Linked DNA regions of Homo sapiens: region 2 is linked to region 1. The links come from fine-mapping of genetic effects on gene expression. Tissue or cell type: esophagus mucosa. Region 1 holds a variant in brackets; the other region holds the start of a gene. All regions are shown on one strand. Distances are from middle to middle.

Region 1 (2,755 bases):
CCAGGCCCACTGCTAAGGAAGTTCCACTCCTGGTCTAACCTCAGACTCTCTTGTTGCAGGATCAGCTTCTTCCCAGTGGGCACCACCCTCCCTTGTGATCCTACCCCCAGCGCTTGCCTTCCCATAGTCCTCCCTTCGCCCACCCCAGGAAGGGACTTACCTGCCGCTGCAGTGAGCCGCTGTGAGGACCCACCTGTGGTCAATAAGGACACCCCCGCAGCGCAGGCTGGTGCCCTCAAACAGCCCCACCTGCCACGGCTGTGAGTTACGCCCACACTCAGTGCCATTGAAAATCTTCGGTGTGGCTGCCTGGCTGAGCCCTGGAGACAGACAGGGGCATGGGTCAGAGAGAGGAAGAAAAGATACAGAGATGGAGAGACACACAGAGTGAGAGAGAGAAACAGGCAGGAGAGAGAGAGGAGAAAGAGAGACGAGAAAGAGAGAGAAAGAGAGAGAGACCCAGTGATAGAAAAAGACCATGAAACATCAAAGACACCCAGGGAGAAAGATGCTTACACATAGGAGGGAAATGGAGAGACAGAGATTCAGAGAGGGACAGAAGGGAAGAGGGATCAAAAAATAGGGGAGACCGAGGTGAGCAGTACCCTGAGAGCTGCAGGTAAATGGAGGCACAGAGAAAGCCCCTCTCCTCCTCACCACCAGGCTGGGGGCCAGAGCTGAGATGGGGAGGGTGGTGGGGCCTCCTCATGGGGGTGAAGGGATCCAGTCGCAGTCCTGCCCTCTCCCTGCTCCGGGAGAACTCACCAAGAACACACAGGAGCAAAAAGATGCTGAGCCCCATGGTGGGTCACTTCCAAAGTCTGGGGGAAAAGGGGAATCTCAGAGGTCACCCTTTCCCTGTGCCCCCCACCTCTGCCCTCTCTGCTTCTCTTTGAAGGTCACCAAGGGGATGACCTGCTTGTCCTCTCTCTACCTGCTCCCCTGTGTGTCACTCCCTCATTGGCAGTCGCCTACCTCCTTCTCACCTTGTCTCTTTGTCTGCCAGATCCTCTACGTGGCTGTCACTGTTTGGCCTGTCCTCGTCGCTGCTATCTCTCCGTCCACCTACCTGCCTGTCTTCTCATGTGCTGGCCACTCCGCCAGCCAACTCTACCACTCTGCACCTGGCTCCTCAGCCACCTGTCATGTTGCTCAACCGGTCCCTTTCCTTCCATCTGTCGCTCCAGACAGACCACTGACAAAGCTCTTAACTCTCTTTGTCCTGGCCCATCCAGTTTCCGGGTTAAGGGAAGGGGACCACGAAGACAGGGGTGGGGCGTGCTCTAATTCTGCAGAAACTCTTCTCAGCTAATCACACTTAATTGAGCTTTACAGCTAAACGGAGTGGGGAAGGAGGAAAGGACCCAGGGTGGGAAGACCCAGCCCCACTCCCTCTCTCCTCTGCAAGCCCGTCAGCAGCCCCAGGACTGATGACTCAAGGTGACTAGGGAGCTGGGTTCTAATCCTGACTCCAGTGACAAAGGA[G/T]GGTGGGGAGACCTTGGACACCTGGGGCCCATCCCCATGCAGTGCAGGGGAGGGGCAGGGGGAAGGAGAGGCTGTGAAAGCAGGAGAGTGGACGGGAGGGGCAGGAAGCCCAAGCTAGAAAGAGTCCCAGAAAGAGAAGAAGAGTTGAAGGAACAGACTTCCAAATAGGTGATCAGGCAGGGGTAGAAGAGAGTTTCTGAACTGAGTTCATATATGTACATATGAAGTGGATCAATCTAATTCCATAAAGTTTTTCTTTGCTAAGAACTTCTATTGCTTAAATAAAACCCACAGAGAGAAAAAAAAAAGACACAGGGAAGGAGAAATGGTAGAAAGAGAGAGAGAGAATGAGTCACAGGACAAGGGAACTTTGTGCTGTTTTTTGTTTTTCGTTTTGAGATGGAGTCTCGCTCTGTCACCCAGGCTGGAGTGCAGGGCTGTGATCTCCGCTCACTGCAACCTCCACCTCTTGAGTACCTGGGATTACAGGCACGTGCCACCATGTCCGGCTAATTTTTGTATTTTTAGTAGAGACGGGGTTTCACCATGTGGGCCAGGCTGGTCTTGAACTCCTGGCCTCAAGCAACCTGCCTGCCTTGGCTTCCCAAAGTGCCGGGATTACAGGTGTGAGCCACCATACCTGGCCTCTGTGCTGGTTTATCTGAGTTTTTGCTTCATCTAGGAGGAATGGAAGGAGAGAAAGAAGGAGAGAGAGAGGGGACAGAGAGAGAAAATGAGAACAAAAAGGGAATTCGGCTCAGAGGAAGGGGGATTGAGAAACAAACCAAGAGAAAAGCAGTCAGGGCCAGGCGCGGTGGCTCACGCCTGTAATCCCAACACTTTGGGAGGCCGAGGCGGGCAAGTCACTTGACGCCAGGAGTTCAAGACCAGCCTGGTCAATATGGTGAAACCCCATCTCTACTAAAAATACAAAAATTAGCTGAGTGTGGTGGTGCATGCCTGTAATCCCAGCTGCTCGGGAGGCTGAGGCAGGAGAATCCCTTGAACGTGGGAGGCGGAGCTTGCAGTGAGCCGAGATTGTGCCACCGCACTCCAGCCTGGGCGGCAGAGCAAGACTCCATCTCAAAAAAAAAAAAAAAAAAAAGAAAGAAAAAGAAAAAAAAGAAAAGCGGTCAGACAGAGCGCACAAACAAACAAAAAAACCCAGAACAAAACAGAGGAGAGCAAACTCCCACCCTATGACTGTCTTTTAGTCCTTCACTTTCTCTCTGGGTCTCCAGTCTCTGTCCGTGTCTCATTTTCAGAATCA
Region 2 (2,604 bases), 30 kb after region 1:
AGGCCTCTGGTCGGGAAGCCGCCATTACATCTCTAGGCCCCTGGCTTGGCTCCTTGAAGTCTTCACCTCATGTCAAGATAATTATTAACTAATTATTTGGATAATTGTTTGAATAACATCTGCGTCTGTCCCCGCTAGACTCCAGGTGCTGAGAGCAGGGACTGTGTCTCTGCTTGTACAGCACCCAGCACAGTGGCCGGTGTTTAATAGCTGTTTGTTGAATGAATAAATGATTCATGAACGGGGTTTCCAGAGAACCTGCCTACAACGGCAGGGAAAGATGGGAAAGATCCATAAGGATCTTAAGGACTACCAATTTGGGGTGAGGTCACATAGGTTTGGGGTCAACCCAAGGATTAAAATAACAATCTAGAAGGTTCTGGAAGGGGCTGAGTATGAAGACAGAATACTAGAGGCCGGGCTCGGTGGCTCATGCCTGTAATCCTGGCACTTTGGGAGGCTGACGCGGGCTACTTGAAGTTAGAAGTTCGAGACCAGCCTAACCAACATGGCGAAACCCCGTCTCTGCTGAAAATACAAAAATTAGTTGGGCGTGGTGGCGGGCGCCTGTAATCCCAGCTACTCGGGAGGCTGAGGCAGGAGAATCGCTTCAACCCGGGAGGCGGAGGTTTCAGTAAGCCAAGATCGTGCCACTGCCTTCCAGCCTGGGAGACAGAGCAAGGTTCCATCTCAAAAAAAAAAAAAAAAAAAAAAAGGAATACTACTAATAAAGTAATAACGGCTAAGTGGCTAACTTTCAAGTCCCTTCTACCTGCGACATACTGAAGGCTCGACGCATTACCTCGTTTCAATATTCACAGTGACCTTCTCTGGTAAGCACTTATAGATTAAGCCCATTTTCCAGATGAAAACAATTTAGGCACAAAGCAGCTGCTAGGCTACTGGCTCAAAGCGGCAGCGTCAGGACGCGAACCCATGTCTTTCAGCTTTCCAGAGAGGACAGGAAGCCTTGAACGCGGGAGGGGCTGCTGCGAGGGTATTTTGGGAGGTGAAGGGTCTGGGGTCGGAGGGCCAACCTCAGCCGGGAAACCAGGTCACCCAGGGACAAGCAGGAAGAGCTCTGAGCTGTCCCCACTGGACCCGGCCCCGAGTGGGCGGGGGGCGGAGCTCGCGGCTCCCACGCCCCCTCCCCCTCCGGCCTGACCCCTCCTACCATTGTCCCGAATGGCCGCCGCGCCTCCACCCCCGCGCATTCTTACCTCCTGACAAGGCCAAGGTCAGGGAGGCGATCACTAGGGCCAGGGGCCACATGGCTCCGGGATCGGGAGGGGAGGGCAGGGCGGGCGGGGCCTGAGGAGAAGGTGAAGGGGGTGTTGAGGGCGTGCCCGGAACCTCCGCGTCTGAAACCTCTCTGCTCCTGAATGTCTCCTCGCCTCATTCACTCTTGACAGCCCTGACCCTGGAATCTGCCCCCCGCCTCCAATTCCATCCTTGGTGGGGGTGCAGTGGCGAGGTGGGAGGAACAGTGTGCAACCTCCTGGGGCTCCGGCGTGCAGCCCCTCACCCCAGGAAGCCGTCCCTCCTCCCCTGCCCTCTGGCGAGCTGGGTGGTCGGTGCACTCTCGCCCTTTTCCTCCAGAGTCTGCCTTCCATTCTACCCCTCTGGGTCTGTCCACACGCTTGGTATTAGCCCAAGTTCTTATCTGTCCGCGCCCTTCGCCTCTCTCCGTCTCTGCAGGTTTCTCTCTAGATCTGAGACTCTAGCTTCACTCTCCCTCTCCCTGACTCAGCTGCCCTTCTGCTTTCCCCATCCTTCCTATCCCCTCTTCTCTCCCCTCCCTGCCCTCCTCCGCTCCCCGCCCCCGCCCCAGGCAGACCCTACCTGAGTGAGGGGCCCACGAGGAGCGTCAGCCGCCAGCTGTCTAGAACTTCAGCCCCGAACCATGGCTTTTAACCCCTGAACTCCCTCCCCCAGCTCACTCAGCATTTCCTGGTCCCTGGCCTCCCCCTCTCCACCCCCAGTGGCTCAGCGGGATGTCTCCAGGCACCCCCGACCTGGGCTTGGCCCTCTGCTTGGGGCGGAGCTTCCAGGACGTGCTGGGACCTAGGTCTGACCCCGCCCAAGGCAGAGTTGAACCCACTGTGAACTTTCAGGCCTCAGGACCCAAAAAAGGGTAAGGGGAAAGCCCATTTCCTTCCCCCTACCCCGCTGAGTTCCATGCCCATCCCTAACTTCAACCCATTCTGCACCCAGTTTTCTAACCTCTTCTCCAACCCCATGCATAATTCTTAATAGGCAGTCAGCCCCCAGATGGCCGTGTTCTATCAGATTCCCACCTCCCTATCCATCCCTAACCATACCAAGTACTCCAGCCTGTTCCTCAACCCCAGTCCCATCTCCAACCTCATCTCAGGTTTAGCTCTCAACACATCCAGGTTCCAATTCCCAGTCTCATCTCAACCCTTTTTCTTTTGAAAGACACAAGGACACCCACAATTATCCCATCATCCTGCCTCCCTGCTCCCGCCAACCACCGGACACAAGAAGGAAATCATCAGCTGGGTGGATAGAAAATCAGCTCCCTCGGACTTGGATGGGGGCAGAGATGCGACCTGAGAAAGCAACATTTTCCAGAAATGGCCT

Evidence for each region. PIP is the estimated chance that this variant, and not a neighbour inherited with it, causes the effect.
Region 2: it holds the start of KLK13, and the variant in region 1 is fine-mapped to the expression of KLK13 in esophagus mucosa (GTEx, PIP above 0.99).

What each region holds. Positions count from the first base shown.
Region 1 is chr19:51,033,820-51,036,574 of GRCh38, forward strand. KLK12 (kallikrein related peptidase 12) reads right to left here and starts at 1,183. Exons shown (of 6, transcript NM_001370125.1): 1 at 987-1,183; 2 at 766-821; 3 at 161-320. The coding sequence starts at 802. The variant G/T (reference allele first, on the strand shown) is at 1,486.
Region 2 is chr19:51,063,796-51,066,399 of GRCh38, forward strand. KLK13 (kallikrein related peptidase 13) reads right to left here and starts at 1,297. Exons shown (of 5, transcript NM_015596.3): 1 at 1,221-1,297. The coding sequence starts at 1,272.